Linked DNA regions of Homo sapiens. The protein of the gene in region 2 purifies or fractionates together with the protein of the main gene of each other region. This does not show direct contact. Each region holds a gene or a part of one and is shown on either strand. Other genes may lie near its edges. The genes, in order: OSTM1, ITGA3, TSPAN5 and TSPAN14.

Region 1 (7,812 bases), on a different chromosome or scaffold from region 2:
ACTTAGTTAAAAATTGAGCACAGGGCTGGGCGCGATGGTTCACACCTGTAAACCCAGCACTTTGGGAGGCCGAGGTGGGCGGATCACAAGGTCAGGAGATCGAGACCATCCTGGCTAACACGGTGAAACCCCATCTCTACTAAAAATACAAAACTTAGCCGGGCGTGGTGGCGGGCACCTGTAGTCCCAGCTACTTGGGAGGCTGAGGCAGGAGAATGGCGTGAACCCGGGAGGCGGAGCTTGCAGTGAGCCGAGATCGCGCCACTGCACTCTAGCCCGGGTGACAGAGCGAGACTCCGTCTCAAAAAAAAAAAAAAAAATTGAGCACATAATCCATTTAACTAAAATTGTGCACATAATCTAGATGGGGAGTAATTTAACCTTTTTTTTTTTTTTTTTTTTTGAGACACGGTCTTGCTATTTTGCCCAGGCTAATTTCTAACTCCTGGGCTCAAATGATCCTCCCACCTCAACCTTCCAAAGTGCTGGGATTACAGGCAGGTGCCACCATACCTGGCCACAATTTTTATTCAAATTTAAAATGCACATATCTTTTAATAATGTGAAAGTTGCAGACATTAGGATGAAATCACCTTTTGACAGACCAAGACAAAATAGAGACAAAAAGAGTCCTTGTTTCCAAAGACTTTCTAAAAACCCCACAAGAAATCCTTTCACGCCCTTCATTGCAACTCCTGCTTTCACATGGTTTATCACTGCCATTCTTTAGGACTGCAGTAATTCAGATAAGATGCACTCAAAAGAACACTTGCCCAGTAATGGCATCGCCACCAATGAACTGACAACTTGGCTTTGAGCCTCAGGAACCAATGAACTCAGTTTCCAAGCAGCTTGTGTGAACCTCTCCCTTTTTGCTAATAAAAGCTTCCCTTTACCCTTCCCTCACTGGATGTACTGGTGGTTTGCCAGTGCATTCCAAATTACCATACTTCTTTCTTATTCCCTAATAAACTCATCATATTTGGAGATAATTTTCTCTAGTGTCTTTTTCTTAGGCTGCCAATATAGTAATTCTACTTCTAGAAATCTACCAAACTCATACAAGTACTCTAAGTTAAATGAAAAGAAGACTGTTTATGGTGTACAATTTAAAACTTATTATTTCCAGAATTTTCCATTTAATATTTTTGGACTGCAGTTGGCCACAGGTAACTGAAACTGTGGAAAGTGAAGCCATATATAAAAGGGATGACTTTATAGAAAAATTGCTATTTGAGTGTTACAACACACATCAGTCCACTAAAGGCTCTGAAGTCCTGTAGTAAAGCATTTCCCAACCTTAATGGAATACTAAACCCTTTCTGATAGGACATCTATTAACATGCTGCAGAACAAATTCTGAGAAATGTTCACCTAATTTTTTTTATTTTATTTTTTTGAGACAGAGTCTCTCTGCAACGCCCAGGCTGGAGTGCAATGGCACGATCTCAACTCACTGCAACCTCTACTTCACTACAGGCGTGCACCACCAAGCCTGGCTAAGTTTTGTATTTTTAGTAGAGACAGGGTTTCACCATATTGGCCAGGTTGATCTCGAACTCCTGACCTCAAGTGACCTGCCTGCCTTGGCCTCCCAAGGTGCTGGGATTATAGGCATGAGATACTGCACCTGGCCCAATTTTTATTATTCTCAAGGAAATTCATAATTCAGTGTTACCACATTTATTACAGAAGAAATCATACATGCTTATACCCTAAGCATGTGTACATCTACTATGGGGATTACTTACTTGTTATGTAAGTTTCAAAACTACATTTTAACCAGAGTTCCAACCTCGTCCTTCACCACGACCGGGCAAGTTCCAATACCAAAATTCAAGAGTCAGAGATAGAGATGGCAATAATCTACAAGGTTAAGATTCTTAAAGCTACCTTTTATTATCATAATTCAATACTCAAAGTTATCTTACTAAACAGTGCTTTTTAAGGTAGGTAAAACATACTTAAGCAAATTTCAGGCAAAGAATAAACTTCCTATAGACAGAATCATACTACACTGCAAAATACCTACGTAAGTCAGATTGAAAACCATTGTGTTTTAATTAAACAATCACACACCTCAATCAATGTTTTCACAATCATTATCTCACCAGATTCTCATTACAAAATACTTTAAGATAGGCAGGATAGATATTATCTCCATTTTACAATGAGAGAACTGAGGTTTTCATGATTTGTAAGTAGAAGAACTTACTTAAGAGCAGAAATCCAGGTCCACTAACTCCTTTACATCATGAATTTAGATAAATATCAATAATTAGTGCTCTAAAAACTTGGAACTGCACATTATTCCTTTGTACAAGGCAGCATTTTAATTTTAAATATTATATATAAAATACCTGAAGGTTATGTTCAAAGCAGGTCAGGGTGTGATTAAATAGATTAAGGAAATATACTGTGCTGTTTGATAATTCTTCACTGTTGTTTGTTAAACAATCTGTCAAAAAAATTCAAAAAGTATATTAATATAACTCAAGGAACAATTCTATGTTGTCATTTATATCTTAAGCTATCAGCTTCGTTTCACACTACAGTAATTCTTTATTCAAACAAGCATGAATTTTCCAAATATATGAAGCTTACTCCTTTTATTTTCCAAAAGTTAAAAAAGTCATAACCATTTTCATGAACATGTTAAAATAATCACATACTCTCTTTTCATAAAAATATACCAAATAAAATTCAAATGGACTTTTGATGGCACAAGGTCATAATCACGGAATATCAGCTATCAAATGCTGCCTTAACAGTGCTATTTAGGCATAAGACTGTTTACCCTGCATTAATTTTACCGAAACTCATATGCCTTATCATTTTTTGTGTCAAATTTCATAGTTCTCTGCATCTTCCAACTTCACTAATGAGTCATTTATTGTACCTAATGGGGTAACTTTTAAAATTCGCTCTTTCTAATCCATCACGAGTTGGGAGCCCAGAGAAACAAACTGGTGAGAATTTTGCCTAAAATACTGACGTGGGGGCTTCAAGTAAAGTCTAGAAACAAAATTGTTTTACATTTTTAAAAATCCTACATAAATGGTATTTCTCTGCAACTGGCTATTCTTGCTTAGAGTTAGCTCAAGTTCACTCATCCCTTTTATTTTCTATGTATGTGTATATCACAATTTATGTATCCATTTTCCCTTCTTCAGGGAATAATCTATTCTTCTTTTTTTTTTTAAGAAACGGGGTCTTGCTCGGTTGCCCAGGCTGGAGTGCAGTGGCACAATTTGCCAGCTCATTGCAGACTTGAACTCCTGGGCGCAAGTGATGTTCCCACCTCAACCTTCCAAAGTGCTGGGATTACTTAAAGGCATGAGCCACTGCGCTCAGCCAGGGAACCTAGTCTTTATCCTCAGGTAAACCTTTGTCTTTACCTCTCCTTGTGTTCTCAGCCTGCTATCTCCAATCGAGGTTCAACTGCCTGGTTCCAGATCTTGGAACTTGTGGTCAGTCGTTTCCATCTGACTCTCCTAGAATCCTTGCCCTCTTTATCTTCCACATATTCACAGCCATTTTCATCCCTGGACAGTCCCCATCTACTTTCTGTACTCTCAGTCTGGTTACAGAATACTACTACAGAAATTCTAAAATGATAATGAAGGGACTCAATTCAAATTCATGTGTTCTGATCTCGGGGCAACAAAATGATCCTTGTAGATGCCCTCCTAATTGCTCTGCAAGGGATGTTCCACATATTTTCTCATCTCTAGTCCCAGCCCTACTCTTGTTCCCCTTAATTTCAACAGATGGCTTTGTATTATGCCCACCTTATTTAGAAATTCAGGGCCATCAGATAGGATCTCTCTCAACTGGAAGTGGAAAGACAACATGCAAAGCTATTGCAATTACCCAGGAGAAAGGCAGCAAGGCAAGTAGAATTTGTGGAGAAAAGAGAGACGGACTAGGTAGACACTAGGATATGACACACTAAGGGACATCCATGTACTCTGACAGACAACAATTACTACAACGAAAGTTAACACTTACTAAATACTTGCTATGTTCTAAGAACTATGCTTACACTGCACTTTAAACACATTTGCCCATTTAATTCTTGCAGTGATTCCATGAGGGAAAAATTATCATTATCTCCATTTTATAAATAAGGAACAGAGATAGGTTTAGATAAATTAAGGAAGTTGCCCAAGGACATAAAACTGGTAAGTAAAAAGCTAGACTCTGTACTCAGTCTGATTCTTGAGCCTGCACTCTCAAACACTGCAAAATAAACATATTTATATCTACATTCTAAACCATTAAAAGTTCAAGACTCGGAATCTACAAATACATGCCACTGCCTACTCCCTCCACTACCCATAGATATCTTACACCATACAGGGATTCAGGCAGTCCCCACCAACTGATCAGAGTTAGCAACTGAGATGAAACCTAAACCTGGTAGACAGGGGCAGACAGCACAGTAAAGCTCCTTTGTGCAAATCAGAAAAAGATATTCCCTCTGGGTAGATAAATTACAAAAGGTCATTCCTGCCTCCAGAAGCTAAGCTGGAATTCAGCCCCATTCACCTCCTTGTACAGCCCCCTTGTGCAGGGCTCCTTCTGCACCCATTGTACACAGGATCCTCTTGGTAAACCTATTTCAGGAGTTGTCCCCTCTCTGAACTCACATACTCTACATTCTCTGAAGCTTTATCTTCTCCAGAACATGAATCTCATTCTAACTTCTCACCCTTATTTAAAAAATCTGAGGGATCACTACAAATTAGGAAACTAAGCCACAGAAATAGGTGATATGCTGATGATCATACCACAAGTTAATAAGCCATTGATATAAAAATAGGCCAGCATGGTGGTTCACACCTGTAATCCCAGCATTTTGGGAGGCAGGTGGATTGCCTGAGTCCAGGAGTTCGAGACCAGCCTGGGCAACATGGTGAAAACCTGTCTCTACAAATAATACAAAATTAGCCAGGCATGGTGGCGTGCATCTGTGGTCCCAGCGGCTTGGGAGGCTGAGAGGGGAGAATTGCTTCAGCTTGGGGAGGTCGAGGCTGCAATAAGCTGTGATTGCGCCACTGCATTCCAACCTGCATGAAAGAGTAAGAACTTGTCTCATTGCCCCTCTTAATGCTAGTTTAATATCATCATGAAGTAGCCCGCAATCCTTTTAGGGATGAGGCAGAGTTGATATAAATAAAAACAAACAATTACATAGTTTTTGTACATGTTTACAAAAACAATTATATAGTTTTTGTAGTTGATGTGTTGCAGGGAAGTTAAGGGAACACAATTTCATTCACAACAGTTGTACATCTGTGTTATAATGAGCTATGTCGTGACAACTGACATAACAATATAGGGATAAAAGGGGTCCACATACTGCCAGCAAAAGTAGTATAAAGTGCATTATCATGAGAGAGCAATAGCAAATTTCTTCTATGCAAGATACCTAATTAAAACAAATAATTTCTTTTGCAAAAGCAATTTATAAAGAAAGCTTCTCTGAAGAACAAAAGAACTTAATTTCTTTTATTAATAATTACATTAATGCATTACCATCAAAACTTTTTCAATGATCATTAGATGGTGGTAACATAAAGCATAAAGCAGTTCATTTATATAATGGGGTTAAAAAGTCTTCATTATTAAAAAGCCATGACTTTCTGAATCGAAATAACAGATCTCTAGTAAATTCCTTTTTTATCTTTTTGCAGGAATTGGGAGCTTAAGATTATAAACAGTGAGAAGCTGTATGTTTTAGAAATTGGTGAGTTAAAGAATATTAATAATAATAAAGCTTCCTTTAAGCACTAAGTGAAGTGGTCATTATGAATTTCCTTCATCTTAGATAATCAATGGAGCCTCATCAAGGGCAGATTAGCAGAGTGGCTTTCTCAGAGAAGGCTCAGGCATCAGCTTAAGAGTCAATCTTTTTTTTTTTTTTTTTTTTTCTGAGACAGAAGAATCTCACTGTCACCCAGGCTGGAGTGCACTGGCATAATCTCAGCTCATTGCAGCCTCCAATGTGCCTGGCCTCAAGAGGCATTCTTAAAGGTATTAAGGATTCAAGTTAAGACCTCACAGAGAAACCTACTAAATTATCATAACAGGAATTATGCATCTTTAAATAAAGCATTTGGCATCTCTTAGGAATTTTACAAAGATCTTTGCTGTTTTTCAAAACTAGTTTTATAGAAAATAGCAGAGATAATCACCAATTTAGGGTAAGCTTCAGAAAATAAAAATAAACTACGGCAACTTTGTACCTAAATGACCTAATTAAGTTTAACAAATATGAAAACTAAGATACTTTAAATTATAAGATACAAATAATATGATTATAACGCTTAGTACATTTCCCTCTGGATAAAATATGGGAAAGAAAGGTTTTGGGCCGGGCGCAGTGGCTCACGCCTGTAATCCCAGCACTTTGGGAGGCCGAGGCAGGTGGATCACGAGGTCAGGAGATCGAGACCACGGTGAAACCCCGTCTCAACTAAAAATACAAAAAAAGTTAGCCGGGCGTGGTGGTGGGCACCTGTAGTCCCAGCTACTCAGGAGGCTGAGGCAGGAGAATGGCGTGAACCTGGGAGGCGGAGCTTGCAGTGAACTGAGATCGCACCACTGCACTCCGGCCTGGGTGACAGAGCAAGACTCCGTCTTAAAAAAAAAAAAATGTTTTGGTTAATTGACCTTCTGGTTAATCATTAAGTACTATTGTTGTTGCTTTTTAAAGCATCAAGACATACATTGTATGTGTTAACTGAAAGTTAGTTTTCCTCTGATGAATCAGAATATACATCGGGATTACACAGTGGTTCAACAGCATCATTATGCTCATTAATTATCACCCAGATCACCTGTATCACTGAAGATATAGGTTGCTCATAAAGAAAGAGTTTTCAGTGTGTAAGAACAAATATCTGAACTGATAATTTTGAGGCCTATCTCATTATAATAATGCTTCATACTGGATACTGCTTACCAAAGAACCAAAACACTAAAGCAGTCATGAACTCATCAAATCTGGTCATTCTGCTGATTATTTAACTGCTGTATGCACAAGATAAGCAAGAAGGGTCTCAATAACAAGGCTATCCCTATGTCAACAATACACACCTTTAAAATTCTGAGAAACCTTTAATATACTCTCTTTACTTTTTGGCAGTCATTCTCCATCAGAAACAGCTAGTTTCCATGTTATTTGTAGTATGAGTAGAAAAAGTTGCACTCTTAACACTTCTTTTGACCTTCCATCAATTTCCAATAACCAGATTCCTACCAAGACTAATACCATTTGAAGACACAGGAATTCTGAGAAGAAAAGGGATGGGAGTAGTACATGGATGGCATTCTCTCCTCTCTTGGATTCCTAGCCTTCCTTTCATGAATAATAACTGCAGAGACTAGATGCCACCCCTATTTCAAGCTAAATTAAGCAGAACAGAAAGATAGTTTTGGGCAGTATACTCATTTTAATAATATTCTTTCTAGTAATATTTTACCTTTCATGTTTTTACATTTTTTTCTGTTATTTAATAATATTATTTTACAAAAATTCTAATAGCCCCTGTTATGGTCTGAATGTGTCTCCCAAAATTGATATGTTGAAACTTGATGGCCAATACAATAATATCAAGAAGTGAGGCCTTTAGGAAGTGACTAGGTCATGAGGGTTCCTTCTTCACAAATGGGATTTACTCTTCCACTTTTCTGCCACATAAATGGGATGATGAATGATGATAATTTTTAATGCGTAATTCTGGAAAATGAAATAGCTAATCTCTCTAACCACATCTAACATACAAATACTCATCACAGATTTGA
Region 2 (3,500 bases):
ACAACATAGGGGGCTAGCCCCAACCCAGGGCCCAGTCTCCTAGTCTGTGGAAATGAGGGGTAAGGAGCAGGCAGAGGACCAAAGTGCTCTGGGCTTCTTGGCAAGATGCATGAGGGGTTCCTTGGAGGGACAGGGACTGTTCTCTGGGAGGTGGTTACTGACACCCTCTCTGCTCCAGCACCTGCACTGACATTCCCTCCTGGGAATCCAGGCATTCTGGTCTGGCCTGACCCTGTGGGCCTATGGGGATACTGCCGGTCCTTCTCTCTCTTTCACTTTTGCTTGGAAATGAGGGTATCTGGGAAGCCCAGGGCAGGGTGGCTCCTAGAAATGAGGTCATGCCTGAGGTACGCAGGAGCCAGGCTCACCTGCCATGCTCTCCTAACATCATGTTTCCCTGGGCAAAGCAGGTGCCTGGCAGCCTTCAAGGTTCGTGCCAGCAGAAATGGGCACAGCAGCTGTGGCTGGAGGCAGAAGGCCTGCTCGTGTAGTATCTTTTTCCTCTGGCTCTACCCAGTGACCAGTCTAGGCCAAGAGGCTTTCAACTGGGCAGGAGTAGGGGAAGCCTGATCTTGTAGAAAAAGCAGCAGCGAAGGGGGCTTGGTCAGAAGTAAACAAAGAAGGAAGAAGATCCCCTTTGCAGTAAGAGGAATTGAGGTTAGATGACACTTAGAATGCCCTCGGGGGTCAAATACAGGAAAAATACTGAAGAGCCAAGGAAAGGGAGCAGAACTGAGAAAAATGGCCTTGTTCTTTTTTTATCTGAGGCTTAGCCAGGGCTCTTTTTCCTGTCCTTTCTCATTCTCTCTCTCCCTCCAGCTTGTTGCTCTGGTTCTAGGGCTGAGTCACCAGTGGGGAGAGGGGGCTGGGTGGGCAGCAAGGGAAGGGTCAGGAAGGATGGGGAGGGCTGCAGTTTCAGCTGCCACAGGGCCGGCCTCTGGGGAGATGGCTAATTCGGGCAGCAAGGCTGGCATAGAGCTGGGATCCAGGCATCCCAGAGCTGCCCCCACCCCTTCTCTGGGGCTCAGAGGTGGAGCAGGCACCCTCCCCACCTGCCTCCCGGCCGGGGATAGGAGGGGAACACAGGAGGCTAGGTACCCAAGGAGTGAGGCCCTGCCATGTTGGCCTGAGTGCTAGATCCTTTGGCCCCCTCTGGAATCCTCCCATGGAGCCACCAAGTGCCTCCCTGAGGTGACAGAATCTGGGAAGGTGAATCTTACAGGCTGCTTCTCTGAGCATTACCCCACCCCAGTGCCCCCAGGGGCCTTCTCCTCTTTGAGGTGAGCCAACCTGGTACCCTGAATTCTCCTGGGTACTGTGCCGCGCCCTTCTTTGATTCTTCTGCTTTCTCCTTGGCTGTTCCATTAGCTCTGAACTGCCCCAAGGGGAGTGATAGGGCAGGGGTAAGGAAGGGCTTTTTCGGAACTTGGAGCTCAAGGGGCTCCGCAGAGGCCAAGAGGGGCTGTTTGGCTGGAGCCAATGGGAGGGTGAGGAGGCAGCTGTTGGAAAGCCCTTGAGTAGTCACTTCACCCATCCCACTCCATCTGGGGGGCTGGGGGTCTCTGCTCCCCCCAGTCCAGCCTGACTCCAGGAGAGGGGCAGTCCCATCTCCTATCTTCCTTGCTCTAAGAGCTCCATCTAGGCATCCCTCCACCTACTCTCCCTCCTTCTGGCTGCAGCTGAGGGGATGGGTTCAGTACTGCTCTGGAAGGGGTCAGCTTTTGGATTTTGTGATCTGGACCAGACCTAAAAGCAGGTGGCTGGCAGAATTGCTCATTTGTGTACTAATTTGCATTTCATTTGCATACAGTAAGGTCCCTCTCACCTTCAGGATTCTCCAACCCCCTCCGCACACACCTGGGTGTGTGTGGCTGGAGGAAGCTGGAACCACCCTCTGCACACCCGCCTTCCCCCATCCATGTGCAGGCCTCTGGCTGTAGACCCATTGGATCCTGGGCTGGGAGCCAGAGGGCCTTAAAGGGCCTCTGAGTGGGCCAAGTGGAAGCTAAAAATACTCTGGGGGGGTGAAGCGGGGGCTCACTCTGGAATCTCTGAGGAGGGAGGGGCCTGGGATGTAGGGCTGGGATTAGGGCACTGGCCCTGCCCTGCCCTCTATCAGTAGGCATAAGGCTGGTTCCAGGCAACAGGCAGGAGGGTATTGGTGGTAAGGGGAAGTATTTCAATCTGATTGACATGCGTGCCCAGCTCTGCCTGCTCAGTACCTTGGGAAGTTCAGAGGAGGGAGTCCCTTAGCCCCTTCCTGGCTGAGTTGAGGGGGCTGGGAGGGCATGGAGACCCTTTTGCTCAGCTGCCTCCTGTATGACAACATGGGCAGGGCAGCAGCAGCAACAAGGGGGCAACACTTCCATTACAGGCGTGCCCAAGGCCCGGCCTCCCACTGAGGCCCGGACCCCTTAGTGTCACTGTAGAAAATTCCCAACCTCCACCTCCAGCCAGATCTGAGCCCCCGCTGTAGAGTGACTCTAGCTGCCAGCGCTCCCACCCTGACCCCAGTGATCACCTGGTATCCTCAAGCCATGGAAGTCTTCCTATGTCTCCCTGCTGATCTCTCTAAACCACCAAAGGAGTCTCTTCTTTTCCCTCTGCTCCAGGTTCCCTAACATGCCAGGGCAGAAATTCCTGGGTCCAGCCAGGCACGGTGGCTCACGCTTGTAATCCCAGTAACTTGGGAGGCCGAGGCGGGTGGATCACCTGAGGTCAGGAGTTCGACATCAGCCTGGCCAATATGGCGAAACCCCATCTCTAGTACAAATACAAAAATTAGCTGGGCGTGGTGGTGCATGCCTGTAATCCCAGCTACTTGGGAGGCTGAGTCAGGAGAATCACTTGCACCCGGGAGGCGGAGGTGGCAGTGAGCCGAGGTTGTGCCACTGCACTCCAGCCTGGGTGACAGAGCAAGACCCTGTCTCAAAAAAAAAAAAAAAAAGAAAGAAAAAAAGAAATTCCTGGGTCCCTGGAGGGAGGGCTGGAGGCATGCTAGACCAGTCCTGATGCCACAACAAATCGGAACAACAATGCTCACATTAGCTATGGCTTCATATCAGAACACCTTTTTGTAGAATAGACCTATTTGTTCCTCTAGCAACCCTGGAGGTCAGCAGGAGAGGGGCTGCCCCCATTTTACAGATGGGGCACTCAGGGCTCAGAGAAGGAAAGGAAATTGCCCCTTCAGGCAGAACAAACCCTAGACCCAGGTCCGTGGGTTCTCAGGCTGAGATGCTCCTTTCCCGCAGGCTGTGGGTCCCTTCTCTCATCTGTCAGGCACGCCAGAGAGCGGATGTCCATGGGTGGTCAGGCAGTGGACTCATCGAGGCCTTCCCAGCCCAGAGAGAAGTGACTCTCCAGGCCTGGCTGCCACCCTGGCCCCCTGCCAGCCTCCCTGGCCAGGAAGCTTCACCCCTTCTCCCAGGAACACTTCCCCAGGGTGAGGTCTGAGCTGTTGTCTTGAAGTATAGGCAAGGTCCCACCCCCTTCCCAGC
Region 3 (7,812 bases), on a different chromosome or scaffold from region 2:
TGTTTGTTTGTTTTGATTCTTTTCCTTGATCTGGCAAACGTGTTCAGCAGCCAGACAAAGAGTTCTCCAGGACAAGGGGAAAACGTTGGTTCAAAGACCATGTTATTTTTCTTCCCCTTCTCATCCCATCTCATCCTCTTCCTCAGTGGGCACCCGCATTTCCATAGAAAGTAAAGATGGTGGCTGTCTGGGTAGGGGGTTCTCTAAGTTGCTGTTCAGTGTGAGGTAAACAATGCTCCAACTGCAGGATCAATAATTATCCACAGCAGTCTGAACACGGAATGTATTTATTTGAATTCTCCTTTAATTTGGGCTGTTTGCTGTACGTATATACATCTGTGAGAATAGTTGTCAATACGGCTCTTCATATTCTTTTTTTGTACCGCACTCTTACCAGGTTATTTTATTTTCTGTTTTCTATTATAATACCTTGCATTGGTCATGTATGTTTTGTGAGGGGAAATGCAAGGGATTGGAGACCACTTTCCGTGTCAGCATGTCATCTGTCTTCAGGACTAATAAAGATAATGAGGGGACACATGAATGGATGTCATATCCGATCATTCCACAGGCAGTTTTTTGCCAGTGTTGTGCATGATTCCCGGGAGCAGTCACCCACCTCCCTGCAATTAAACACTGCTACAAGTACAGGAAGAAGGAATTATTTTCTTTCTTTGCCCCTTCTCCATTTGTGAAAATGTTTAAAAGTGGTGGGTAGCCACGGTTTTGAGTAAGATATTCTGATTTGATTGGAACTTGAAACTTTGTGACTTGGAGAGGCACGGACTACCGAACTGGGACTGGTTCTTTTTGGGGTAGTGAGTTCAGGCCTCTTGTTTCTACTTGAACATTTCTAAAAGTTGCACATTTTAGCTACCCAGCAACAAAAAGCACCCAGGGACTTTCTCTGCCGTTTCCTAGCAGGGGGTGGTAAGGAAATAAAAGGATTTGGGTCTGTTTCCCTGACAGTTTGCTGTAATTCTGTGGAGTGCATAGAGACAAATTTAGCCCTTTCTATGGATTAGGTTGCAGCAAAACCCCTGGAATTGTAGAGAGCTTCAAAGAATTGCAGAGTGCTTGCTTGGAGAGGTCCAGAACAGAGCCGCATGTTTTCTGATTGTGAAGGTCTTCATAGGTGGGTGGGTGAGTATGGGAAGCCTGAAAGGAGACCTAGGCTATGGGACTAAACTAGCTGCCCCAGGCAGAATTGTTAAGTGAGTGCCTTCCTTATGAGGGCCCTTCACTTACCCTGCCTCTTGCCTTCCCTTCCTCTCCTCTCTGTGCCCAAAGCCTTCCTCTCAGATACTCCCTCATACCTTTCCTATCCTGCTCTCTGCCTCAAAATTACCCCATATTTAAATTTCCTGCTTTATTGTACCATGGTCTCTAGTGATGATCAACAGAAAGGCAACCATATGGTTTTGGTTAAAGTAATTCAGACTAAGATGTTAGTGACTGAAAAGCTGGGGTCAGTAGCTTGGCAGCTTGCTTCTGAAAAGTTACACACCTCTGCTCTCTACAGAGTCACCAACCTGTCTGTGATTGCCAAAAACAGCAGACTCGGTGCTACTCCCATACAATTATGAAGAAGAGATTGCCAACAGCATGGTTTCCTAATTTTCATTTTCACACTGAACTGCTAGACTACATTTGACATACACTGGTGACATTCAAAGGTATAGTTCTGGTAAAATAAAATTGAACATATGGTGGCACCAGCACTGAGAGCTTGGTTCTTTTCCTGATCAGCAGTTTGGCTCTTCATCAGTTAACTGCCTGGGCCTCAGTTTCTCAGCTGTTAAATTGAAGGAGGTGGATGAGTTATAACGTTCTTTCTAGTTCTTACACAGAATGAGTTTCTTGAGTTCCAATATGCTGGAGAAGAAAAATAGAAGAGTTTGGCCACTAATTTATAACAGAAGTAGTATATACCAGGACACGTGATAAATTATAGACATTTTCTGTTAGGGAGACTTGTCTGAAGACTAGTTTTATTACTTTCATTTCTTCCTCAAAGATCCTTTCATAAAAAACAAACAAACAAAAAACAAAAAACAAAAACAAAAAAAAACCAAGGCTGGGCGCGGTGGCTCACGCCTGCGATCCCAGCACTTTGGGAGGCTGAGGTGGACGGATCACAAGTTCAGGAAATCAAGACCATCCTGGCCAACATGGTGAAACTCTGTCCCTACTGAAATACAAAAAACTAGCCAGGTGTGTTGGCGGGTGCCTGTAGTCCCAGCTACTCGGGAGGCTGAGGCAGGGGAATCACTTGAACCCGGGAGGTGGAGATTGCAGTGAGGCAAGATCACACCACTGTACTCCAGCCTGGCAACAGAGCAAGACTCCGTCTCAAAAAAAACAAAACAAAGCAAAACAAAAAACCTTTCACTAATTTCTTCTTGGCTTGTTCAGTTCCTGGTATAGTGTCCGTGCTTCTCTCTCCCCACTGTGAATCTCAAATGTAGTCCTGTGAGTCATTAAATATATTTTTATTATTAGAATTACAGCTTCATGTATAAAATCTGAATCCTTTTATATAACAGTTGTAATGACATTCTGAGTAACAAAGTCAACATCTTGTACAGATTCCTTTCTCATTAGTTATCACAGGCTGGTGGGGGAAAACTTGTTTCCTCTGTTATATATTGGAACAATTCAAGACAGAAGGGAATTGATTTTATTGAGGGTGTCACCGTACTGGGACATTTCTCAGAAAACCCTGAGACTGCTTTGGGTTTGGGGGAGGGAGAAGAAAGAGGATTTTGTTTTAAAGTCATTTCTTTGGGGTACCGAACACCACATCCCATCACTCATCATTAATAGATGTTTTGCCCTTTTGGATTCTGGCTTTTAACTGTTTTGGATTCTGGATACTTAACTGTTCCCAGGCAAGTAAATTGATCTCAATATTCTGGTTATTTATTGCTACATAACCTCCAAGCTTAGTTGTTTAAAACACAGTTGTTTATTATTATAGTTCACAGTTCTGTGATTTGGCCAGGCTCATCTGGACAGTTCTCACTTGGGGTCTCATACAGTTGTGGTGAGATGTAGTTGGAGTTGGACTTACCGGAAGGCCCTCTGGGCAGGATGCCTGAGATGGTATACTCATATGACTGGAAGCTGATGCTTGCTGGGAGCTTAGCCAGAGTTGTCACTGGAGCACCTACCTACACGTGGCTTCTTCCTGTCTCTAAGTCTTAAAGAAGCTTCCAGCCAGTTAAGGTTCCACTTAGAACTGGCAGTGCCACTTTTATCTATTCCATTGGTTAGAGCACTCATGCAGACTGCTGAATTTCAAAGGGTGAAGAATTAGAAGCCACCTTTTGATGGAGAAGTGTCAAGGTCACATTGCAGAAAGTCATGTAGGTTGTGGCCATCTTTGAAAAATATAGTCTACTGTATTAAGGCACTGAGCCTTAATTTCTTGTTTATAAAGGAAAGATAACATTAATGGTGTTGTAGTTTTAAAGATTCAGTGAGATAATGTTTTATTCGGCATAATATCTCAATATTTAACAAATAGTGAATATCATTACTGTTGTTGTCTCCAGATTTTATACTGGTTCCATACAGGGCTATAGAACTTCTAGAATGCCTTAGTCTAGTACTTTGGCATCATTACTACTAGGTAATGATAATACCCTTAAGATCTGCCAAGAAGATGAGGCAAATGGATTCAATAGATTTTATAGTGACTTGTTAGGAAAGAACTCAATGGAAACGGTGGAATGATTTGGGAGAACCAAGTCATTTTTCTGTTTTCTTTGCTACAAAGGATTAGAAAAGCCTCAGTTACTTGAGGCCAACTTTCTCTTTTGATATGCTTTCAGATATTACCTTGTGTCTTTAAGTGCAAGTTTATCCAGGGTTGATGGCAGGATCTTGCCTCTAATTTGCTTCCACAGGGCTTAATTCAGAGAGGAGGGAGACTCAGGAAACCTTGGGGCGGTGGGGGAGGGGGGGCATCAAGTAGGAAGCTTTATCTTATGATTCACTATAAATTGCAAGATGTTCTGGAATGATGATACATCAGCAGTTTATAAGTCATAATTTTTGTTTTAATTTGCTAGACATCTGTTAGCTTCGATGGCAACCATATGGGAATCTAAATTGCGTTTTGAATTACAGGGAGATGGTAGGAAGAAAGCTAAATATGGTTATGAAAGTGTCATATGGGAAAAGTGTAAGAAAGGTATAAAGTGGGGAAAGTAATTGAATATAGGCTTGCTTAGTGTGGCCACTCCCTCTGTGGGGCAGTATGAAGGCGCAGAAGCATTCTCACTTGATATACTCCGCAGATTGAAATGAAGCCAAGTGGGGAGAAGTTGGAAAACCAAATCATGTTTCAACCACCATAAACTTGCCAAAATGTTGCACTCATTTAGATGGGTCACTTTGTTTTAATGTCCACAGTAATAGGTAGTCCCTGGCAAAAGGTGAAAGCAATCTGCATTTTTAACAGAACTTTTCACTAATGATGTTTTTCTTGTAAGCACCCCAAAGAGTCTTCCAAGAATATTATATCTTTGTGACAGATGAAGAAATTGGAGTACAGAGATGTGGAGTAACTTTTGAGGTGTTGAAGAGCATGTCAAGGTTCAGTTTCAGAGTGTTAAGTCTCTTCCGTAATGATAGCCCCAGCTTTTTGGGTGGAGACTTATTTTAGAAGATGCTTGTTATTCTAAAATAAAACATCAAGTAAGTCATTTACATCTGTTCATAATCGAAAAGTGATAAAGTTTTTGCATATGCCACAATTAACACCACCCACAAGCACAAAAAAGTTAGGATGAAAATGTTCTTCAAGAATATGGTGGAATAATTGTAGCCTATTGAAAATTCATAAATGAAAATTGGAGTATTGTAGACAGCATTCTTGAATCACATGTTTGTTTCTGTGTGTAATACTGATGACTGTCTTAAAATTTCTAACTTCCAAATAAATCATACTCCACTGGATTATAAGGGCTTCAAGTGTGGGGGCTGTCTCACTTTCATAAGCCCAGTGTCTTGCGCATTGTCTGAAACACAGTAGATGTTTTGATAAACGTTTGGGCCAGGCTTGGGGGCTTACACCTGTAATCCCAACACTTTAGGAGGCTGAGGCTGGAGGATGGCTTGTGCCCAAGAGTTTGAGACCAGCCTGGGTAACATAGTGAGACCCTATCTCTACAAAAAAAAATTAAAAATTAAAAATTAGCTGGGTGTGGTGATGCGTGCCTGTAGTCCCAGCCACTTGGGAGGCTGAGGTGGGAGGATCACTTGAGCCTGGGAGGTTGAGGCTGCAACTGCACTCCAGGGTGACAGAACAAGACCCTGTCTCAAAAAAAAAAAAAAAAAAAAAAAAAAGTATGTTGAAGGAAAGAATTACAAAATCATCAGAAAGTACGTAGGAATCATCTCCTCTAACTTCCTAGTCAGTGAAGCATTCTCCATTGTATCGTGCCTACCTTTCTAAGCATGGATCTGTTTTTGGACCACTTTAATTGTAGAGTTTCATCTGTTCAAACTAGATGTTATCTGTCTCCCCATCATTTCCATCCTCCTAATTTACTGTTCATTTAAAATTTTTATTTGGAAACATTAAACCAATAGGAAAATTGCAAGTAGTATAGAGAACCTGTTTTTATCCTGTTTGAGACAAAGTTGCCAGCATGTTGGCTATCACACAAACAGTTGAGTATGTATTTTCTGTAAACTGGACTATTCTCCTAGATCACCACAGTACAACCATGAAAGCCAGGAAATTACCAATGATACATTAACACCATTTAATCCTTAGATTTCATCCAAGTTTCCCAGTTGCTCCCATAATGTTTTAAAGCAAAAGAATTCAGGTCAGAACCACACTTTGTATTTAGTTACATGTTTTTAGTCTCTTTCAGTCCTTCACTATCATGCTCTTGATACTTTTGACAATTATAAGCCAGTTATTTTGCAGAATGTCCCTCAGTTTGTGTTTGTGCCATTTTCACAAGCTTAGATTCAGGCTGTGCATCTTTGGTAGGAATAGTACAGAAATGGTGCTGCGTTCTCATTGTACCCTATCAGGGTGGCATTGATTTCTGTTTGTCCCATTACTGATGATGGTCACTTGATCAAGGTGTTGTCTGCCAGGCTTCTCTACCATATAGTTACTCTTTTCTCATTTGTAATTTATAAATGTTTTATGGCAAATTACATTGAAACCATGTAAATAGCCTATTCCTCATCAAATTTTCAATCTGTTATTTATTTATATCAGTAAGAACTTAGTGTCTTCCTTTTTTCAGTGTGGTTTAATGTTACTGTCATTACTTTATTTAAAATGGCCCTAGGTTTGGCCAGTGCAGTCTTTTCACATTGGCTCCTGTGCTCTTTTAACTCCCATCAGTCTTTGAGCACCATCTTGCTCTCTGGCAGAATAAGATGTTCCAAACTCATTTTGTGATTTACCTGTGTCATCTTTTGTATCAGACATTTCTCCAAGGAGCTATTGAATGGAGAATGGAATTTAGAAGCCAAGATCTGGTTGCTTGGTGTGCTCATTGCTATTAGGGTGTTGCTACTCTGTGTATATACAGACACACATGTACATCTGTAATTCTGTATCTATGTACTTTTAAAACCATGAGTTTACAGTCATACCTTAAATTCCTGTCTGATACCACAGGGTTTAGTTTTTCCTCTCCATATTTTATAACTGCTTTATTTGACAGTGAGATTCTTGGTTCGCATTATTCTTAACAGTTTACTTATTTGGTAAATCTCCCCATATGTAACCAATCTTCTGCAGCTGCCACCACCTTTCCTCCTGGGGCTGCCCTCCTCAGCTGTTAGTGCTCTAGCATCCTGTGCCACCACCCCCATCCCCATATGGATACCTTTCTCCCTGAGATACCCTGCTCTGGGCTTCCACAGCATCCCTCTTCCTACGTTTTTGTAAACGTAGGAAGCCTACCAGATTGGACCTACCTAATGGCTTTGAATTTTCAGGAAGGAGAAGGCGAAGAGCCTCGGCTACTCTTGAATGATGTAAAATAAGACTTATCTTCCTTCCCCATGGTCCTTCATTATTTAAAAATAGCCATTATGTCATTCCTAAACATTCTGTTTTCCACCTTTAAAAGCTCCTAGTTCCTCCATGTGTTTACACTAATGATGTTTTTCTTGTAAGCATCTCAAAGAGTCTTCCAAACATATTATATCTTTGTGACAGATGAAGAAATTGGAGTACAGAGATGTGGAGTAACTTTTGAGATGTTGAAGAGCATGTCAGGGTTCGGTTTTAGAGTGTTAGGTCTACATATACTGTTTCCAGATTGTTCTTTGCCCTGGTCACGGTGCTCTGCCTAGGGTCCCATTTGGACACACCTCTATTAATGCAGCAACCAGAATGAAACACGTTGTTCACAGGCTTTTCTAACCATCCGAAGAGCAGCAGGCTCTTGAACTCTCCCTTCAGTCCCTAGGCTGTGCTGTGCCTGGTGGCAGAAGCCTCTGCTACTGTCTGGAATTGACTTTGAGTAAGTTACTTTCACAGATTAGTTCCTCAGTTGCTCATCTAAAAAAACCAGGAAAATAATTTTCTGCAAAGTTGTTATCCAGTATTATGTGAGATCATGCATATCAACGTGCTTCATAAATGGTAAATCTCTAAATACAAATACTAGTTATTAACCCAGGCTAAACTGCACTTGCTTTCCCTGGCAGCCAACGAACACTTTGGCTTGGATTGACTTTTTAGTGAAATAAAACCTTCACTTTTTCAAGTGAACTCTATTAAACCATCCCCCTAAGCTATATGCTAATCAGAAGCCCTAACCC
Region 4 (7,812 bases), on a different chromosome or scaffold from region 2:
TCAGTTTGCTTATCTTCCATTATAGTAGTGTCCTCTGTAACTGTGAATCAGGGAGGTTATTCATAATATCTCCACATCCATTTTCTCCCTTAATTGCGTATGCTTTTGATTTAGACAGGGCAAGTAGCCATTTTGGTGGAGCGCAGGCCCTGGCAGGGGGGCAGTGTCCAGTGCCGCTCTCAATTAAACGTGAAGATGTGAAGATGAATAACACTGTCCAGCTTGCAGAGTGGACGGTGGTGAGGCAAGCTTTCAAGTTGCACCTACTTTCTAGTTGAGTGACCTACACAAGTCTTTGATTTTTTTTTTTTTTCTTCCTGGAAAAAAAAAGTTGTCTACTTTTCTCATCTGTAAAGTGAGAAGAATCAAGTCTGCCTTTTCTGTCTCACGGGGTTGCAGTGAAGCATTAGTACCCTGAGAAGCAAGATCCAAAGCCCCTGAGTTAGGCCTGACACTGGTGTGAGACAGCTGCCATCTCTGGCGGCACTCAGCAAGTGTTCACCAGCAGCTGATTCTGGGAACCTCACTTCCTCCGCCCTTGGGCTTGGTGGGGTTGGGTAGGGTTGGGTGGGGCTGTGGTTTTCTTTTAGGAGGCAGCAGGCCAGGCCTGGAGACCAGAGCTTAAGTGGGCCTGGGCAGGCTGGGGTTGAAACTCTTCACCCCTTGCGGTCTGTACTGCCTCCCAACTGAGCAGCCAGGGAGAAGGCCTAGAGCCTGTGCCTTTCAGCTAGATAGCTGGAGGAACTGGCTCCTCCCTCCTTAGGCTGTGCTGGCCTGAGCTGGGAGCCTGAGAGCTGGGGCAGTTGTCTCTAAAGTGGCTTCTGGGATTCTGGTAAGAGGTGAGCTCCTGGTGCTGCCTCAGAGTCTTTGTGTTTCCTGGCATTTGGGAGAGCTGGAGTTGGGCTGTCCTGCATGGGTAAGGTTTGGGGAGGGACTGGAACAAGGGGCTAGTGAACCTTCTCTGGGTTTTTCCTGCCTGACTATGCGTTGACAGTCCCAGCTGTTGGGCCTGTGCTCCTGTACACTGCACGGCCTTGAGAGGAGTTCGGAGCCCTAACATCCAGGAGAGAGGCCCCACAGCAGTGGAAGGAAATGGGCCTCTCCCGAATCTCTTGTTTGTACCCCGAGGTCTGAGTGGTGATCCTGGGGATGCTATGGGACTCTCAGCAGTAGGAGTGTGTCTGTCCCCAGTCTGGGTGCCCACCAGCTGTGCTGAGGGTCCTCTCCTGTGTCCCTGGGCCAGGCAGACAGGGTCTTTTTCTGGGGCTTGTTAGGGGAGGTCAGCCACAGCCCCAGACCAAGTAATTTACACACCCTGAGTGAGGGGTGGGAGCAGTGGGTCCAGGAAGACTTAGGGAGCTGGTGAAAGAAAAACTTAATTCTGACACTTGTTAAACTGGTAAGGTAGACTGTATCAGGACTATTACGATAGATGTAGGAATTATCGCAATGGATTTTGCAGTAGAGGGGAGAGAGTGGGCCAACTCCAAATACAACAAAGAAAAGTGGGAACTTATAGCCAAGGAGCGGAGTGTGGGGGCTCCTGAAAATTTCTAAGAGGGTAGGGAAATTTTTACTAAACTTAGCTAACTGAATTCTTGCTGCAGGCAGGCCAGGGTGATCAGGTTTTACCTGGGAGATAGTACAGGATGAGAAATACGTTCAGATATCCAGGGTGATTAGATATTGAGGTTGGGGGATTCTGGTTAACAGGAGTTTTGCTAAAACTAGGCTCTTAGAGAGAATGGAGTTAGGAACCCTAGGTCAGGACCAGATGAGTAGAGGGCTCAGAGGAATAAAGTTTGGTGAGGGACAGAATCTCTGTCAGTATCCCGTGGTTGGCAGTGTCCTGTCCATTCTTCTTGCACTGGCCTGTCCCTCAGGAGACAGGTGTGAGTGGTCCTGAGCTTGGGCCAGTGTAAGAGTAGGGGACAGGTTTCTCTCCTTGTAGGTGTCCCTTCTTGTAAGTGTCACTCTCTTTTTTTCCAGAAACCTTGGTCCTTTTCAGCATCTGCTGGCCCCTTGTCCCTTGGCTCCCTTGCTCTTGGCCTGCTGGATTTCCCCTCTGCACCCAGGAAATCGCATGGACCTGGGTCCTTGTTTCCCTACAGCCCACCAATTTTGCTGCTTTTTTCTGCCCCCTGAAGCTGAGCTCCTGCTGCAATTTGTGTTCCCTGCTCTCCCTGTCCTGGGCAAACCAGTCTGACAACTTTGTGGTTCTCGCTCCCGCCTCCATCAGCCTGGGGATTGACTGTCCCATTTGTCTGAGCTGGGCAGAGGGAGGTGCTGTGGGGGATCTCTTCCTCTTGCCTGGACTGCACACTCCTGCTGCCTTCTAGCCGGAGCTCCTGGGCATTTTGCCTATGGGAGCTTCACCAGCTTCCTTCTGTCTGAGGCCTACAAGTCCCTGCCTCCAGCCTACCTTGTTCCTCCTCCATGAGTGAGGCTCCTCCTTTTCTCTCTGGCCCTCCTGTCTACTTGATCAGACTCTGCCTCTCTTGAGGGCCGGCTCCCTCCAGCCTACCCTGCACAGGTGACCCTGTTTGGCCTGCCTCCTTTTCTTGAGGCTGATCTTGTCTCAACAGTCAGCTTTTCAGGAACCAGGCCCTTGCTGTTGTAAGGAAAACCTGTCGGCTGTGGATGGGGCCTTCCCTCCTTCCTAAAGGCTCTGTAGCCAGCTTCCACCCTTGCAGTGGAACAGTGGTGGTGCCAGAACCCTGCTCTCTGCAGCCATCCTGCCTACCACAGTCATTGTGTTTTGTAACTCTAGTAGCTTCTTGTGAAATACAAGTGATGGTATAAACGTGGATAGGTTTTTGAGGGGGGCATGCCAAAATCAGAGTTGGTGGTAGTGGTGGGGGATTCATTCCCAAGGGCTCTGGGGTGCTAAGTGTGTGAGCAAAGAGGAACAAGTGGCATGTGCCCAGGATGGGGTGGGGCGGGCAGGTTTAGTTGAGGGCTCCTCTGGTGTAGGGTAGCCCTGACGCTCCCCTCCATGGCATGACTGATGAGGTGGCAAAGGCAGGTGCCAGGATTTGGTGTGTTGAAGATTAGTGCCTGGGTTGGGCTCTGCTCACTCCTGCAGAAAGACGGTTGGAGAGGGGCTGGTCTTGGTTTCACAGAGGATTGTGGGATTACAGGCAAGACCTGCTGAGGGCTTGCACTGAGCCACCGAGAGGAGCAGAAAGAGATACGAGGGCTTCAGGTGCCAGTATGGTTCTCACTGTTGTGAGATCTCATTTGTGCCTTTTTTTTTTTTCCTTCAGACAGGGTCTCACTCTGTTGCCCAGGCTGGAGTGCAGTGGCCCTATCACAGCTCACTGAGGCCTCCACCTTCCTGGCTCAAGTGATCCTCCCGCCTCAGCCTCCTGAGTAGCAGGGACCACAGGCATGCAGCACCACACCCAGCTAATTTAAAGAATTTTTTGTAGAGATTGGATCTTGCTATGTTGCCTAGGCTGGTGTCAAACTCCTGGGCACTTGATTTGTGCTTCTTAATTCAGGGGCTACTTATTGAACATATTTAGCAGTCTTCAGAAAGCATCTTATTCTGTAAGGGGAACCAAATATACCCATTCCCCCTCTCTGGCCTTCTTTCCCTGTGGTCTGGGCGGTCTTTGAGCTTGAGGTCATTAGGAGGTGTTTATTTCTGTCCGCCCTGGTGGCCTAGGGCGTAGGAATGGGGTGGGATGGGATGGGATGGGGTGGGGTGGGGTGGAGGAGTTATTCTACATAGATAGAGTTCTGTTTATGCAGCACTCCCTGCCATACACATCTCTCACTCAAATGGTCTGGCCAGTCCTGGTTCTAATGGTCATTGTGTCATTCCCCTCAGCAGCAGGAAAGGCTGGAATGGTTTTTGTATTGTTCCTTAGGGGGAAAAATCACTTGGAGGAAGTATATCAGTGCTTCTGAGTGCAGAGTATTTATTGACACGTCAGTTAAAGGAAGCTTTTAAACAACATATATGTATCTCTTTAGTGAGGAATAAATCTACAAGTGCATCTCACAGCTCCATTTTGCAGCTTCCATTTCCTGGAAGGTACATGGAGTTTAGTGGTTAGGGAATGGGGTTTTGAGCTGGGATTTTGGAGAAACTGTTTTTAGCCTGTCCTTGGAATTGGGCCAGGCCTAGAAATCTGTTGAAATAGCTTTCTTTAGTTGCTGAAACTGGGATGTGTTCATAGCACTAGGACCTCGAGCTCCACTGATGACTGAGTGGGGAGGGCTCAGAGAAGGGTCCCTGTGGATGCCCGGGATGCCTGGGTTTCAGTCCCGTCTCCTGCATCGCCTACATTGCCTGAATCTTAGGGTCTTACAGATTTATCATGAAGTGGGCTTGGCAGCAGATGGTCTGGTTTCTTTTGTGCCTTTGTCAGAATCTGTTCTTGCTCTTCTTAGGAAAACTTTCTATTTCAGGACTTGGGGTGGAGTCGAAAGCAGGGAGCCCTGTGAGTTGGTGAGTCTGTATCCCTGAGGCTGCCACTGCCTGACCCCCTCCTTCCCCTTGTTTCGTTTCCCCTCCCCATTACTCTGCCTTGTTCTAGGGAAACACCAGAAGCTGCCTGCAGACAGCTACGGGTAAAATTGTGTGTCCAGCCACAAACTTTAGGCATTTTAAATATTAATTTAGGTTTAACATTTTTATTTACAAAAATGTATACATGATGAAAAACACATAACAAAGATACACGGTGAAAACTCCTATTTCTATCCCTGACCCCTTCAGTTCTGCTCCCCTGAGGCCGCTGTCACCAGATGTTCAGTGCCTAGTCAAGCATGACTGTATTCCTCTCTTGTTTATTACCCCAGTGGTATACTAATTATGCTGTTTTGCACTTCCTGATTTTTACTCTGAGAATTTATCCCAGGATTGTTCCATTTTAGCACACATAGTTTAGTCCATTCTTTTTAACAGCAGTGCATGATTCTGCTGCACAGTGAATGATGACTCACTTTACCAGCTCTCTATTGATGGATTTTGAGGTTGCTTTCAGTGTTTTGTTTCTATAGGCTAAGCTGCAGGAGTGTCTTATGCATGCTGCAGGTCTGTAGTGGAAATGACTAGATGTGGAGTTACTGCATTAGGTGTGTAAAAGGAAAAGAAACATGCGGCTTTGATTCCGAAAGGGGGAATGAAAGTTTACAAAGTTTTCTTTTGGAGGGATCTTGGCCTTCTACAGAGACAAGAGCTGGAGAAACTACTGGGAAGGCATGAGAGGTGCCAGCGTGTTGGTTCCCACCCAAGTCCATCTTTGGTTCAGTTCAGGCCAGCCTGTCTCCGTGACCTCCATATTTACAGCCCTTGGCTGGCCCTCTGGCTCATGCAGCCTGTGCCCCTAAAAGTGTGAGGAGTCAGCCAGAGCGAGTTGGGGTGTAGGGAGGCGGGGAGCAGGCTTCTCATAGTGGGTTCCAGCAACCTCACGACTTTGCAGGACCTATGTGGGGTGTGAAGGGGGAGCGTTGGTTGCAGCAAGCTGGAGCTGGCGTCAGCTTTTAGAGGAGCAGATTTTCCCGCAGTGTCAGGGGTTGGTGTGAGGATCGGCCTCCTTCTCTGGCCTCCCTTGGCCTTTCGCTGCTCTGCACACCTCCCTGTTCAGGCCGCCTTGGGCCTGGTTGCCACCCTGTGATTTTAAAAGCCTGTGTAAAAGGCACCTGGTGAAAATAATAGATGGGTTTTGTGTTTTGAGCGGGAGCTTCCTTTCAGAACAGAAATGGGGTACGGTTCTTCCTGGGATGGGTGGGGAAGGAGGGACAGTCGTGAGAGCATGTTGGAGGTGCCCACTCTGTGTTGGGAGCTCTCTGGTTGTTTCCCTGTGTGGCTTTCACTGCCCCATGCCAGGGCAGGGTGGGAAGCAGGGAGACTTTAGGGCTGGCTGGCAGATAGACCTCCTAAATAGACCCTGACCTGGTGGGTTTGAGGCTTGTGTCCCTGCCATGGCTCTCCCACCCTTCTACTCAGAGAACTTCTCACCATTGCGGTTACATGCAGTCCCCGTGAGAAGGCCAGAGCTTCCCATGTGCAGCTCATTGTCTGGGCCTGGGTCCTTGGTAGCACAGAGGTTTCTATTGTGGCCTGGTGGCAGTGAGGGCTGACCTGTGGAGCTGAGGAGGCGGGACCTGGGGCCTCACAGTGGAGCTATTCAGGGGCTCTGCCCTGGTTTCCTGCTGCTTCCCATTGTAGATTTTTTTGGGGGAAGGGTGGGAGGGAACTAGAGAAGGAGGAGAGTGGGAGAGGGAGTGGTCAGTGCAACTATTGTTGCTGGTAGCAGGAGCCCTTTATGCTTAATAGAGGTCCATTTGCAGACAGCCTTGAGCCACTCCAAGGCCCATCATGTGTTCTCAGATTCTAGTTTCTGCCTCTGTCAAGATCCCCCTTCGCCCTTCTCAAGTCCCTGTGCTTGCCTGGAACACCTCTGGGTAAGAGTTCTGAGCAGCTGGGCAAGGAGCAGGAGTGGCCGGTGCCAGGCTTGTCGGCCACCTGCCCACTGCTTTGGGGAGTGAGTTCTGCCGAGTCTTCCCGGCCCAGCTGTGCCCTTGGGTGGGGGCCAGGCACGTGCCTGGGTTGCTATTAGTCTCCCAGGCCCCCCACTTGCTTTGTGCCTCAGTGCTCAGCCCAGTGCTCCCGTTCCTCACGCGAGCACTCAGCTGCTGAAAAGCCTGTGTGCTGGCAGCTCAGCCTGCAGCCACCCCCGCTGCAGGAGCCACAGCCATTTTCCTTTGTTCTGCCATCTCCGGGCTCTTGAATCTCAGGCTGGCAGTGGGCAGCAGGCAGCCAGCACACAGCGCTGGTGGGGTGGAAACCCTTGTGACATGAATCTGCCCACTGAGCCAAAGGCATGGCAGCCCCCTGGCTGCACCCCTAATTCCTCTGGCTGTACCCCTATCTCCCAGCCATGCTGAGAGAAGCACAGAGTATCCCCTCTTACTGGATCAGAAAGATAGTGACACCTACAGTGGGAACAGAGAGAGGTCTCACCTGTTTTGGGCCACTGAGGTGCACACTAAAGAGAGAGAGAGTTAGCCTCCGGGTCTTTGGCAGAAAAAGCCACTCTCAGGCACAAAGGATGCTCGTTCTTAATCTCCTGGTCTTTGTTGAAAACAGAGGCAGGATTGGTTAAGAATATTTTTTATTTTGGTCCTTATGGTTGTGAGGACCTTTCTCTAACTGAGGGGAACTGTACCCTGCTTCTTCACATCTGAATCTCTCCCTTCTCTCCCCCACCACTTTTTGGTGGGCAAAATGAGCATTCTCTTTTGGGGTACAATTTCAGCTATGTGTGGGGTTGCAGGCGGGGTGAAGGCCACTCTCACCCGCTGTCTGACTTCTCTATCTGAGGTGTGCCCGCCCCAACCCATACTGTCTCCTTTCTAAACCACAGACAGAATCTGTAAGGCACCTGCCTTTGAAATAGAGTTGTTTTGTATAGAACTCATAACTCCCACTAGTTTTCATGTGTTTAGCATTATAGCTTACCCTTTCAAAACCCATCCTGGCTGTCTTATTTGATTCTCTTATCAGCCAAGTCTTACAAATCAAGAAGCAAGCCTCAGCCCCAGATAGGGTTGCACCTTGGAGTGTCCTCATTTTATTTTATTTTTTGACATGGAATCTTGCTCTGTTGCCCAGGCTGGAGTGTAGTGGCATGAATATGGTTTAGTGTAGCCCCCACCTCCCAGGCTCAAGTGATCCTCCTGCCTCAGCTTTCCCAGTAGCTGAAACCACAGGCACGCATCACCATGCGCGACTAATTTTTAAAAATTTTTCATAGAGACGAACTCTTGCAATGTTGCCTTGGCTGGTCTCGAACT

What was found.
Region 1: the proteins of ITGA3 (region 2) and OSTM1 fractionate together in Homo sapiens (co-fractionation; one large-scale study listed by BioGRID). This does not show direct contact.
Region 3: the proteins of ITGA3 (region 2) and TSPAN5 purify together in Homo sapiens (co-immunoprecipitation; one large-scale study listed by IntAct). This does not show direct contact.
Region 4: the proteins of ITGA3 (region 2) and TSPAN14 purify together in Homo sapiens (co-immunoprecipitation; one large-scale study listed by IntAct). This does not show direct contact.

Annotation. Positions count from the first base shown.
Region 1 is NC_000006.12:108,052,130-108,059,941, forward strand, and holds part of OSTM1 (osteopetrosis-associated transmembrane protein 1 precursor), read right to left. Parts: intron 2,459-7,812; coding exon 2,361-2,458; intron 1-2,360. UniProt on the Homo sapiens protein: Required for osteoclast and melanocyte maturation and function.
Region 2 is NC_000017.11:50,059,110-50,062,609, forward strand, and holds part of ITGA3 (integrin alpha-3 preproprotein), read left to right. Parts: intron 1-3,500.
Region 3 is NC_000004.12:98,649,408-98,657,219, reverse strand, and holds part of TSPAN5 (tetraspanin-5), read left to right. Parts: intron 1-7,812. UniProt on the Homo sapiens protein: Part of TspanC8 subgroup, composed of 6 members that interact with the transmembrane metalloprotease ADAM10.
Region 4 is NC_000010.11:80,458,669-80,466,480, forward strand, and holds part of TSPAN14 (tetraspanin-14), read left to right. Parts: intron 1-616; exon of another isoform or gene 617-916; intron 917-4,419; exon of another isoform or gene 4,420-4,459; intron 4,460-7,812. UniProt on the Homo sapiens protein: Part of TspanC8 subgroup, composed of 6 members that interact with the transmembrane metalloprotease ADAM10.